2 separate regions of the Homo sapiens genome follow, and region 2 is linked to region 1. The links come from fine-mapping of genetic effects on gene expression. Tissue or cell type: whole blood. Region 1 holds a variant in brackets; the other region holds the start of a gene. All regions are shown on one strand. Distances are between the middles of the regions.

Region 1 (6,463 bases):
TAAGAGAGGGAATTACTGCTGACCCTTGGATCCAACTTTGTTCCAGGCATGGAAGCGTTGGTGCACACAAATCCTCTCTGCCCTAAGGTAAGTAGTACCTGGTTAGTTTCTTACCCATATTTCCTGATGTAGTTACTCCAAACAGATTTCAGGGCACTACTCTTCTGTTCTATTCTGCCTCTCCCCACTTTCTTTGAATCATATACTGTCAAGATTAGGGCCCCTACGGGTCTTTTAAAGGGTGCGTCCTAATGCCCTAACCACGACACTTATCTCCTACCTCTTTCTCCTAGTGCTTATCCAGCTATTTAAATCATCAGGCATAATGGAGATTCAGAGTGTGGGGATTATCTTTATGGTGACCAGCAGGAGACCTGGCCCTTGCTCCTCTTAACCCTTGGGTTCCCCCTGCCCTTAATTTCCCAGTGGCCCCTCTAACAGCCCAGTGCCCCCACAGCTACCTGCACTCCTGTGACCCCCCCATCATCCATGGGAACCTGACCTGTGACACCATCTTCATCCAGCACAACGGACTCATCAAGATTGGCTCTGGTGAGGGGAGGGAGAGGTTCTGGGCAGGGGAGCCTCGGGAATTTGGGAACCATGGGGGTAAGATGAAAGGAATGGGGGATAACAGAGCAAAATTCTGAGGTGTGGGCTGGTGAGAAGAGAAAGGACCTTGCTAGGAGTAATTAATAGGAGAGGCCAGTTAATTAGTGGAGAGGGGGTAGGATATATAATCTTACACCTTTTTGAAGGGAAAATTGGGGTTAATACAGAGATACTGATAAGAGGCTGGGAAAGGGCAAGAGATAGGTTTGAGGTTTGATTTGAGTCCTGGGGCCAGACCCTGCCAGAGGAGGTTCCAGGCTGTTCCTGCTGTGAGTGCTTTCGTTTGCTGTGTATTGTATGCAGTGTACAACATTTCTGTGTGCTGTGTCTGTGTGGTATTTGTGTGTCCATTTGTCTGGGGCTTGGCTGCTCCATCGCTCACAACTTTTCTCTGTTTTCCTCCCTCCCGCTTACGGGCTGCTCTGTTCCCAACAGTCTTTCATAGGATTTTTGCTAATGGTGAGAGCTCCCTCTGCCCCACTTGGGGCTCTGTTTGTGCTCCCTCTGCTCCCTTGGCGGCTGCCCAGTGCATGCAGTCGTGGGAGCAAACCCTCTTCCCCTATCTTCCCTGCCTAATTATGCCTGCTTAGCTTCTGCCCTGCCAGCCCTCCGCCTGCTTGCCCCTTCATAACCTGCTTGTTTCCTGTGGATTCTGCCTGGCTGGCCACTTACCTCCTGGATTCATGTTCTCCCTCATCATCAGGCTAGTTCCCAGATCATACTGTGCTCCCAGATTCTCTGTGACTTGTAGTCATTGTTTATGATCTGAGTGAGTCCAAATTGGGCCTGGTCCTGGTTCCTCGTTCAGCTCTGTGGCAGACAGTGTTGAGGAATAAGGGGGTAGAACAGGAGTCTAAAATGTTTTGGTGGATTAAAAGTGGAACAGATTCAAGGGTATTAGCTCAATTCTGAGCTGTTTTGAGTTTCACTCAGCAAAGGTGGGTAAGAAGGAGGCTACCTCCTGAGCTGTATGTTAATACTTCTTATCCTTATTTATCCAAGTTCCTGAGGTCTCCAATTGTCCCAGATTAGGAAGGGCTGCCTGTGTTTTTATGTTATTTGCAGGGTGGATGAAAAAACTAAAACCAAATATTTTCATGTGAGCAGGGATTAGAGGTACCTGGGATTTAGGGAAGGTGAACGCAGTACAAGTGAAAATTTTTCCTTAAACTTCATTGCTTCTAGACCAGCCTGAAGCCCCTGTGTATCTGTTAATTTAGTCTGGTGCTTTTGTTGCTCCTGATTTAGGGACATTAGATGAGAAGCAGTAGGCCTAAGAAAGGGGAGGTAGGTGGCATCCATGTGTGGTCTGTAGTTCAGGACAGGAAAGGGAATATGTTTGTGCCTGTTGAGGGTCATCAGAAAGGAGACTTCAGGAGAGAATTTGGCTTTTGGGGCCTCTCTCTGGAGTGAGACTATTCTTCATTGATGATGGTCAGATTGTGGGTGTCTCCCCTACTCCCAGTGGCTCCTGACACTATCAACAATCATGTGAAGACTTGTCGAGAAGAGCAGAAGAATCTACACTTCTTTGCACCAGAGTATGGAGGTGAGCCTTCCTGCTTTCTCTGCCCTGTCCTCATCCCCCTGCTTTTGCACCTTATAACTTGAGGTACAGAGGCAATATAACTGAAACTTCTAGGCCTTCTCTACCAGCATACAAAATATTTTTCTTTTCTTTTTTTTTTTTCCTAAGGCATTCCTGCCAACCCTAGCCCCCAATCCTCTGATTAACCAAAGCCTTCTCTGTTTTCCCTAGAAGTCACTAATGTGACAACAGCAGTGGACATCTACTCCTTTGGCATGTGTGCACTGGAGGTGAGGGGACTGGAGGGGAGGGGGGAAAGGGGTCAGATGAGAAGATGGAATTGGGAATGGAGGGAAGACAAGTAAGGCGCTGGCTTGGAGGGAGTGATTGTGGGAGCACTGAAGTTCTTAGGTGTCTACTTTTTTTTTTATTCTTCCTCACTGAAGATGGCAGTGCTGGAGATTCAGGGCAATGGAGAGTCCTCATATGTGCCACAGGAAGCCATCAGCAGTGCCATCCAGCTTCTAGAAGACCCATTACAGAGGGTAAGGATCTTCAGGATCACTCCCTCCTCAACTGACCTTCAAATGTCTTCTGGTTTTTCTTCCTTTGTACCCACTGGGTATATGCTCCTAAGAGCTAGGGAACATAACAGAAAGGACACGAAAAATCTATAAACATTTTCTTAGGAGGTGCCTACCATGTTTTTGCATAGAAACACACAGGTAAGGGGGTTAAGATGGATGATGCTGGGGTTAAAAGTTGTGTGTTGGAAGCCGGGCATGGTGGCTCACGCCTGTAATCCCAGCACTTTGGGAGGCCGAGGCGGGCGGATCACGAGGTCAGGGGATCGAGACCATCCTGGCTAACATGGTGAAACCCTGTCTCTACTAAAAATACAAAAAAAATTAGCCAGGCTTGGTGGCGGGAGCCTGTAGTCCCAGCTACTCAGGAGGCTGAGGCAGGAGAATGGCATGAACCCGGGAGGCAAAGCTTGCAGTGAGCTGAGATCGCGCCACTGCACTCCAGCCTGGGCGACACAGGTAGACTCCGT[C/T]TCAGAAAAAAAGAAAAAAAAAAAAGTTGTGTGTTGGCTGGGTGCAGTGGCTCACACCTGTAATCCCAGCACTTTGAGAGGCTGAGGCGGGTGGATCACTTGAGGTCAGGAGTTTGAGACCAGCCTGGCCAACATGGTGAAACCCTGTCTCTACTAAAAATACAAAAATTAGCTGGGCATGGTGGTGTGTGCCTGTAGTCTCACCTACTCGGGAGGCTGAGGCAAGCTTGAACCCGGGAGGCGGAGATTGCAGTGAGCTGAGATTGGGCCACTGCACTCCAGCTGGGGCAAGAGAGCGAGACTGTCTCAAAAAAAAAAAAAAAGTATGTTAATTTGAATGTGTCTACATGGAGGTAAATTAATTTGATGGTTACTTCAGGCCATTGCTGTATACTCTCAGACAGCCATTTTTATATTTTTAAGCACATCAGTCAATTTAAATTAAACCAGTTGTTTGGGATTTTATATTTATACAGTTTTAGTTAGGGACGGTGGCCTGAAATAATGAGCTAAGATTTAAAAGACATAAGGTTATGAATCAGTTGATAGACTATAGTAAGCAGAGCCTGGGCAGGAAGGTCCAAACAAGAACAGTTTGTAACTCATTAGATAAGTATAGTAGGGAACAGGAGAGAAAAGAAGACTAGTGGGAAGTCAGGAGGATAGTGTGGAGTAAGTTTCTACTTCAACATTGAGGTGGAGTATTCAAGTGAAAGATTAGGTATGTGACCTTGTTAGCCTTCAAGGTTAAAAGCAGGAAAGCAGGTTAATTGTCATGGGACATGCAGGAGGTAGAAAAGGAGGCGGTGGTGGAACATGGTGGCTCATACTTTTAATCCCAGCACTTTTGGAGGCTGAGGTGGGAGGATCACTTGAGCTCAGGAGTTCGAGACTAGCCTGGGCAACGTGGTAAAACCCTATCTCTATGAAAAAATAAAAATTATCTGGGTATGGTGGCACATGCCTGTGGTCCCAGCTACTCTGGAAGCTGAAGTGGGAGGATTGCTTGAGCCCAGGAGGTTGAGGCAGCAGTGAGCTGTGATTGTGCCACTGTACTCCAGCCTGGTTGGCACAGCAAGACCCTGTCTCAGAAAAAAGAAAGAAAGAAAATAAGGCAGAATCGTTAGAGGAATCCTGGGAAATTCGGTGAATTCAGTGATTGTGGGCAAAGGAAATTGTGATACTAGGCTTGTGAAATAAAAAAATGGTGAATATTGATCACATTGGGTAAGTTTGGGAAGAGAGAAGCTAAATTTGGCAAGATTTAGAAAAGAAGATAGGCAGTGAGTTGACTAATAAAGCAGAGAGGTAGAAACTAAGGAAAAAGAAAGTGTGGGGCCGGGCGCGGTGTCTCATGCCTGTAATACCGGCACTTTGGGAGGCTGAGGCGGGTGGATCACGAGGTCAGGAGATTGAGACCATCCTGGCTAACATGGTGAAACCGTCTCTACTGAAAATACAAAAAATTAGCCGGGCATGGTGGTGGGCACCTGTAGTCCCAGCTACTCGGGAGGCTGAGGCAGGAGAATGGCGTGAACCCGGTAGGCAGAGGTTGCAGTGAGCTGAGATTGCGCCACTGCACTCCAGCCTGGGCGACAGAGCGAGACTCCGTCTCAAAAAAAAAAAAAAAAAAAATTGTGAACATTAAAAAAGAAAGCTTGTGGTTGGAGAGCAGAAAAATAATTAAAACCAGAAAGGCAGTGGATGGTATCTTTCATATAATATCTTACAGTTTTTGAAGCCCTTTCAGGTGCATTTTTCAATATATTGTTTTCTCAGCAAGTGCTGAGCACCTACTATGTACAAAGCCTTGTGCTAAGTAGAATGAGAGCTATAAAGATGAACACACTGGGGGCTTGCCAGATGCCTGCTCCAGTTCCTTGTTTCCTTTTCTAGGAGTTCATTCAAAAGTGCCTGCAGTCTGAGCCTGCTCGCAGACCAACAGCCAGAGAACTTCTGTTCCACCCAGCATTGTTTGAAGTGCCCTCGCTCAAACTCCTTGCGGCCCACTGCATTGTGGGACACCAACGTGAGTCGTCTTGGCCCTATGGGGAATAGTCTTCCAATCTGGAGCCCTGTAACTATCACTGGCATGCTTGTTTTCCTCTTTATTTCCAAAGGGATTCTTTTTTTTTTTTTTTTTTTTTTTTTTTTTTTTTTTTGAGACAGAGTCTCACTCTCTCTCAGGCTGGAGTGCAATGGCTTGATCTCAGCTCATTGCAACCTCCAGCTCCCAGGCTCAAGCGATTCTTGTGCCTTAGCCTCCCGAAGAGCTGGGATTACAGGCATGTGCCACCATGCCTGGGTAATTTTTGTACTTTTAGTAGAGATGGGGTTTCGCCATGTTGGCCAGGCTGGTCTTGAACTGGCGTCAAGTGATCTGTCCGCCTCGGCTTCCCAAAGTGCTGGGATTACAGGCATGAGCCACTGTGCCAGGCCTCCAAAGGGATTCTTTACCCCTTTGCCTGCATGCCTTCTTTGACATTTAATCTGACTATCCCTTCATAATATCCCACTCCATCATGCCCTCCAGACATGATCCCAGAGAACGCTCTAGAGGAGATCACCAAAAACATGGATACTAGTGCCGTACTGGCTGAAATCCCTGCAGGACCAGGAAGAGAACCAGTTCAGACTTTGTGAGTAACTGAGAGGGTCTGAAAGGGGCAGATTGGTCACGACCACTCTTGAGGCTCTGTAAACTGTCCATTCTCTGGGAATGCTTGAATTTGCTATTTTGCTTGTTTCTTTCCTTCCATCTCCTTTCTCTTTTCTCGTCCAGGTACTCTCAGTCACCAGCTCTGGAATTAGATAAATTCCTTGAAGATGTCAGGTGAGAGCAGAGTGAGAAGCAGGCTTTCTTGAGGAAGCAGGCGGGGTTGGGTATCCTAAGGCGTTCACAGAGCCCATGTGACCTGTCTTCATCTCCCTCCAGGAATGGGATCTATCCTCTGACAGCCTTTGGGCTGCCTCGGCCCCAGCAGCCACAGCAGGAGGAGGTGACATCACCTGTCGTGCCCCCCTCTGTCAAGACTCCGACACCTGAACCAGCTGAGGTGGAGACTCGCAAGGTGGGGGCTGTGTGGGTGTGGATTGTCTCCATGGTTGTGGTGGAAGGGAGAGAGGACATCTCAAATAAGGCTCTATCCTTTAGAGAAAATGCTCCCTAGCAGCCATGCCCTATGGGCTCGAAAGACGTCTAGGTATTGGGTTTTTTATGGACAGGTCTCTAGAGTGACCCTCTCTTCCCTCCCTAGGTGGTGCTGATG
Region 2 (6,570 bases), 80 kb before region 1:
TCGCCTGAGCCCAGGAGTTCAAGGTTACAGTGAGCTGTGATCATGCCACTCGACTCCAGCCTGGGTGACAGAGCAAGATCTTGTCTCAAAAAAAGTGGGAACCAATACAATGACTCTTGGCAAGCATTCAACTCAACTAGTGGAAGCAGACTGACCACGTCTACAGGAGAAAAACCTTCAAGCTTCAAGCATTTAGAGAGGAAATAAGAGTATGTCAGTTAACATAAGGAGCTAAATGGAAATCAGTTAAGAGAGCTTCTATACAAGTCTTAAGGATTTTCTAGGCCAAGTGCTGTGACTCACGCCTGTAATCCCAGCACTTTGGGAGGCCAAGGCAGATGGATCACTTGAGGTCAGGAGACTAGCCTGGCCAACATGGTGAAACCCCATCTCTACTAAAAATATAAAAATTAGCCCGGCGTGGTGGCAGGCGCCTGTAATCCCATCTACTCGGGAGGCTGAGACAGGAGAATCACTTGAACCCAAGAGGCAGAGGGAGAGGTTGCAGTGAGCCGATATCACGCCACTGCACTCCAGCCTGAGTGACAGAGGAAGATTCCGGTTTTTTTTAAAGGATTTTCTACATCAGTATACATATATTTATCTCATTCTTCCTAATTGCTGCATGGCATTCCATAGAATTAGTTATTTAGACAATCTTCATTTAATGAACAAATGAGTTAAAATACTATTTCAAAAAATACTGCAATAAATATTCTAGTACAAATCTCTTCATTAATTCATCAATAAATTATTTTTCTCGAATAATCATCTGAACATGGAATTACTGTACTACACTGAAGAACATGCACATTTCAAAATTTGATACTACCAAACGGCTCACCAAAATTAAAACTATTTATGTATATTAGTACCCATTTTATCATACCGTTACTGATCTTTTTAATTTTCGCCAATCTGATAGGTGAAAGAATTCTTCCCCACTCTATTTATTTGCACTGATAATAATTGGTGTCAGCAACTTCTTTCTATATATTGGACATCCATATGACTTTTATGAATTGCCTGTACATATAATTTGCCTGGCCGGGCACGGTGGCTCACGCCTGTAATCCCAGCACTTTAGGAGGCCGAGGTGGGCGGATAACGAGGTCACAAGTTCGAGACCAGCCTGACCAACATGGTAAAACCCCGTCTCTACTAAAAATACAAAAGTAGCCGGGCATGGTGGCACGCGCCTGTAATTCCAGCTACTCAGGAGGCTGAGGCAGGAGAATCGCTTGAACCCGGGAGGCGGAGGTTGCAGTGAGCCGAGATCACGCCACTGCACTCCAGCCTGGGCAACAAGAACAAAACTCCGTATCAAAAAAAAAAAAAATACACTTCTCATGGAAGGCAGCAGCAGGATGTAATGGTACAAATTCTGGATACACAGTAAAGGAATAGATGATCAGTAAATTCGTACTGAGTTTCTAAAACCTTCCATTGCACCCCAATCTGTCTGGTTCCCATGCTGCTCCAGGATGCCAGCTTGACCTCCCCAGCCAAGAAAAAATAATGACACAACACTGCACCTTAAGTATGAAATTACTTTGAATACACTGCTTAGCTTAATATATTGTTTCCTAAAGTGTTCCTAGGGTACAACTGGCGGTATGCAAGATGATTTTAATGGTACGAAAACGAACATTTTAATGACTAGTGCTTTTATTTCAACTTACATAAACAATTATAAGTAGCCCATGAAACCCACGGTTTCATTTATATTGCTTAGGTCGAGACTAATGCATTTAAACTTTTTAAGTAAGTCAATTTAAAGAGAACTATTCAGAAAACAATAGTACAATTGATAAGAGATTGCAAAAATAGTGATGGCACGGGATTGACTTAAAATTGTATATGCCTCTGGAACAAAGAGGTTTGTCCATACCCTATACATCCCTCCAACAAAGTGAGTTGCCTCCGACGGAGTTGAAGTCGCCACCTCTGACTTCCCCAACAGGCAGCCAACTTGCCACGGGACAAAAGGACTAGACAGGGAAACACAACTGGCCCTTGGTTACGCCAATGGCGTTGCAGCGCGCGGGGCACAACCCTCGGGGTTAAAGAGCCTCCTCGAGGAAGAGGCTGGGACACAGCTGAAAGAGATTGACCCACAACCACTCTAGGGGCCATCACCTGCCCTTCTTCAGTCCTGGGCGTGAAGGTAGATTTCTCCCCTAGCCTGTGCGGGAGAGGAGCCCTGGTTTTTCTAACAAGGACTACTGTAGGTTCGCCGAGTTCGAGGGACGCTACGTATGCAGCGCCTACGCCCGGACACAGGCTTCCGCGTTACCGACACCGCGTGGGGGAGGAGGGCAAGACCCGAGGCTTGCAGAGATGGGGGGTGCACGGTGGCCACAGTAGGGAAGGTGCGGAGCATGATGGTGCTCTGTAGGAGCGCAGACGCTGAAAGGCGCGCTGCTGTGGCTGGGAGAAGAGCGGAGCCAGGAGTTTGTTCCCAATATCTTAGTGCTATGGCAAAAGAAGGGGGAGGAGTAATTGTGGGGCCCCCCACACACCCGCTGCGGCGATACACTCACCCTCGCCAAAGTCCTTCCGGAAGTCTAAGTTCGAAGATGGCGCCGCCTGTCTGGTCGCGGTCTTATGACGAAATCTTGTTAGCTGCTCTTCACTGACGCCCCCACCCCAGTGCACAAGGTAAACACGTGTGCTTGGTCCGGAGTCGGTGCCGGGCTAGTTTTCTCTTAGACTCTGTATTCCATAATGCAGCGCGGCCAGAGTCACCGAGCCCTCCGAAGCCAGCCGAGTTCCAGGGCGTCTTCAGCGGCGCCAGGGACGCTGCAGGGCCTCATGGGAGTTGCAGTGTCAAAAAGGGGAGATCGACGCCTGCGCGGCCAACGGGATCCCACGCGGCCTCGACGGGAGCCGGGAGTAGGCGGACTCCCAGGCCGGGCTCGCGCTCTGGATCCCTGAATCCGGCCTTTCCGGCCGGACTGCCGCGCCTGTGGCCGGAAGAGCCAGCTAGACCAGAGAGTCTGTACCTGCAACCCTGGCGGCGTCCGAGCCCAAGGCGGAGTCTGGGAGACAAAGAAGTCCTCGCCGCCGGCCGCTGGAGGATTCTGCCAGTAGTGAAGTCAGGGATGGGCCCGAGAGAGCTTGGAAAGAGGACAAGGAAGGGAAGGAGTAGGAGTAGAAAAGCATGACTTTGGCTGGGTATGGTAGCTCCTGTCTGTAATCCCAGCACTTTGGGAGGCCAAGGCGGGGGAGGATCACTTGAGCCCAGGAATTCGATACCAGCCTGGGCAACATAGTGAGACCCCGTTTTTATTTTTATTTTTATTTTTTCCTGAGATGGAGTCTTGCTCTGTCCCCAGGCTGGAGTGCAGTGGCGCGATCTCGGCTCACTGCAAACTCCGCCTCCCGGGTTCAAGCAATTGTCCTGCCTCAGCCTCCCGAGTAGCTGAGATTACAGGCGCCCGCCACCAAGCCCGGATAATTTTTGTCTTTTTAGTAGAGAAGGGGTTTCACTATGTTGGCCAGGCTGGTCTCGAACTCCTGACCTTGTGATACGCCTGCCTCAGCCTCCCAAAGTGCTGGGATTACAGGCATGAGCCACCGCGCCCGGCCTAATTTTTTAATTTTTTCTAGAGATGGGGTCTCGTTATGTTGACCAGGCTGGTCTTGAACACCTGACCTGAAGTGATCCTCTTGCCTCAGCCTCCCATAGTGCTGCGATCACAGGTGTAAGTCACTGAGTTTGGCCATTATTCCATTTCTGTACACAAAAACCTTTCTCATTCTGTGCTATAACTAGTTAGCATTTAATTGGGTGGATGTGGTATAACTAGTGCCTTGTTGATATTGATGCATATTTACATGGTTTTGCTGTTATAAACAATGGTCCCTTGCTATTATAAATCACACTGCTATAAGTAACCTTGCATCTAAATTACTTCAAATGTGTAACTATATGGGTAGGATAATTTCTAGAAGTGGAATTGTGAACCAAAGTTTTAGGTGCATTTGTAATTTTGATTTATAACCAATCTTTTCACTGATCTACTTCTCTGCCTCTAATTTCTACTAGGTGTTTGTTTGTTTGTTTGTTTGTTTTGAGACAGGGTCTTGCTCTGTCACCCAGGCTGGAGGACAGTGGTGCAATCACGGCTCACTGCAGCCTCAACCTGCCACCTCAGCCTCCTGAATAGTTGGGGTGTGTGGCAGGTGTATACCACCACTTCCAGGTTTTTTTGTTGTTGTTGTTTAATAGAGATGAGGTCTTGCTATATTGCCCAGGCAGGTCTCACACTACTGAGCGCAAGCGATCCTCCTGCCTATGCCTCCCAAAGTGCTGGGATTACAGGTGTGAGTTGCCATGCCTGGCCCGGTTATCTTTCTAAAGCATAAAGCAACCCTGTTGATCCTCTGCTTAATTTTGATGATTAAGTAGTATGTTCAAAATATAGAAATCCATGTATTGATAATGATCTTTTAAAAAAAGTAAAAGCCAAAATATCAGCTACTCATCCTACACCATTGAAAGTAGTGACCATTAAACTGCTCTACCTCTACCTCCACCTCTCTACCTCTCTACCTCTCTACCTCTACCTCTACCCACGGTCTCCCTCTCTTTCCATGGTCTCCCTCTCATGTGGAGCCGAAGCTGGACTGTACTGCTGCCATCTCGGCTCACTGCAACCTCCCTGCCTGATTCTCCTGCCTCAGCCTGCCGAGTGCCTGCGATTGCAGGCACGCGCTGCCACGCCTGACTGGTTTTGGTGGAGACGGGGTTTCGCTGTGTTGGCCGGGCCGGTCTCCAGCCCCTAACCGCGAGTGATCCGCCAGCCTCGGCCTCCCGAGGTGCCGGGATTGCAGACGGAGTCTCGTTCACTCAGTGCTCAATGGTGCCCAGGCTGGAGTGCAGTGGCGTGATCTCGGCTCGCTACAACCTACACCTCCCAGCCGCCTGCCTTGGCCTCCCAAAGTGCCGAGATTGCAGCCTCTGCCCAGCCGCCACCCCGTCTGGGAAGTGAGGAGTGTCTCTGCCTGGCCGCCCATCGTCTGGGATGTGAGGAGCCCCTCTGCCTGGCTGCCCAGTCTGGAAAGTGAGGAGCGTCTCCGCCCGGCCGCCATCCCATCTAGGAAGTGAGGAGTGCCTCTTCCCAGCCGCCATCACATCTAGGAAGTGAGGAGCGTCTCTGCCCGGCCGCCCATCGTCTGAGATGTGGGGAGCGCCTCTGCCCCGCCGCCCCATCTGGGATGTGAGGAGCGCCTCTGCCCGGCCGCGACCCCGTCTGGGAGGTGAGGAGCGTCTCTGCCCGGCCGCCCCGTCTGAGAAGTGAGGAGCCACCCCATCTGGGAAGTGAGGAGCATCTCCGCCCGGCAGCCACCCCGTCCGGGAGGGAGGTGGGGGGTCAGCCCCCCGCCCGGCCAGCCGCCCCGTCCGGGAGGGAGGTGGGGGGGTCAGCCCCCTGCCCGGCCAGCCGCCCCGTCCGGGAGGTGAGGGGCGCCTCTGCCCGGCCGCCCCTACTGGGAAGTGAGGAGCCCCTCTGCCCGGCCACCACCCCGTCTGGGAGGTGTGCCCAACAGCTCATTGAGAACGGGCCAGGATGACAATGGCGGCTTTGTGGAATAGAAAGGCGGGAAAGGTGGGGAAAAGATTGAGAAATCGGATGGTTGCCGTGTCTCTGTAGAAAGAAGTAGACATGGGAGACTTTTCATTTTGTTCTGCACTAAGAAAAATTCTTCTGCCTTGGGATCCTGTTGATCTGTGACCTTACCCCCAACCCTGTGCTCTCTGAAACATGTGCTGTGTCCACTCAGGGTTAAATGGATTAAGGGCGGTGCAAGATGTGCTTTGTTAAACAGATGCTTGAAGGCAGCATGCTCGTTAAGAGTCATCACCAATCCCTAATCTCAAGTAATCAGGGACACAAACACTGCGGAAGGCCGCAGGGTCCTCTGCCTAGGAAAACCAGAGACCTTTGTTCACTTGTTTATCTGCTGACCTTCCCTCCACTGTTGTCCCATGACCCTGCCAAATCCCCCTCTGTGAGAAACACCCAAGAATTAGCAATAAAAAAATAAATTAAAAAATAAAAAAATAAAAAAATAAAAAAAACTCATTAAGCTCTAAAAAAAAAAAAAAAAAAGAAAGAAAAAAAGAAAGTAGTGACCAATTCCTGAAAATTGGCAAAAAAAAAAAAAAGGCAAGAGTAAGGCATTTATCTTGTCTTTCCAGTATGAACTCTAGTTCAAAATAACTGATGAGAGGAAGGTTTTGTTTGTTTTTTGAGACTGAGTCTCACTCTGTCGCCCAGGCTGGAGTGCAGTGGCGCGATCTCGGCTCACTGCAACCTCTGCCTCCCAGGTTCAAGCAATTCTTGTGCCTCAGCCTCCTGAGTAGCTGGGATTACAGGCGCCCGCCACCACTCCCGGCTAATTTTTGTATTTTTTTAGTAGAGACGGGGTTTCACCATGTTGGCGAGGCTGGTCTTGAACTCCTGACCTCAGGTGATCCGCACACCTAAGCCTCCCAACGTGCTGGGATTACGGGTGTGAGCCATTGCCCAGCCCGGGATTTTTTTTTTTTTTTATAGATTAACA

What was found. PIP is the estimated chance that this variant, and not a neighbour inherited with it, causes the effect.
Region 2: it holds the start of GTF3C2, and the variant in region 1 is fine-mapped to the expression of GTF3C2 in whole blood (TOPMed, PIP above 0.99).

What each region holds. Positions count from the first base shown.
Region 1 is chr2:27,434,676-27,441,138 of GRCh38, forward strand. It overlaps NRBP1 (nuclear receptor binding protein 1), which reads left to right. Exons shown (of 18, transcript NM_013392.4): 6 at 47-87; 7 at 458-552; 8 at 2,078-2,161; 9 at 2,372-2,430; 10 at 2,587-2,685; 11 at 5,091-5,223; 12 at 5,728-5,833; 13 at 5,977-6,027; 14 at 6,130-6,265; 15 at 6,452-6,463. Among named protein-coding and RNA genes, the nearest start is that of KRTCAP3, 4.5 kb to the right of the region's middle. The variant C/T (reference allele first, on the strand shown) is at 3,195.
Region 2 is chr2:27,354,196-27,360,765 of GRCh38, forward strand. GTF3C2 (general transcription factor IIIC subunit 2) reads right to left here and starts at 2,569. Exons shown (of 19, transcript NM_001035521.3): 1 at 2,544-2,569. GTF3C2-AS2 (GTF3C2 antisense RNA 2) reads left to right here and starts at 2,570. Exons shown (of 4, transcript NR_183827.1): 1 at 2,570-2,661; 2 at 3,613-3,707; 3 at 4,690-5,265. RefSeq lists enhancers at 1,963-2,576, 2,090-2,369, 2,420-2,759, 2,577-3,190, 2,770-2,899 and 1 more.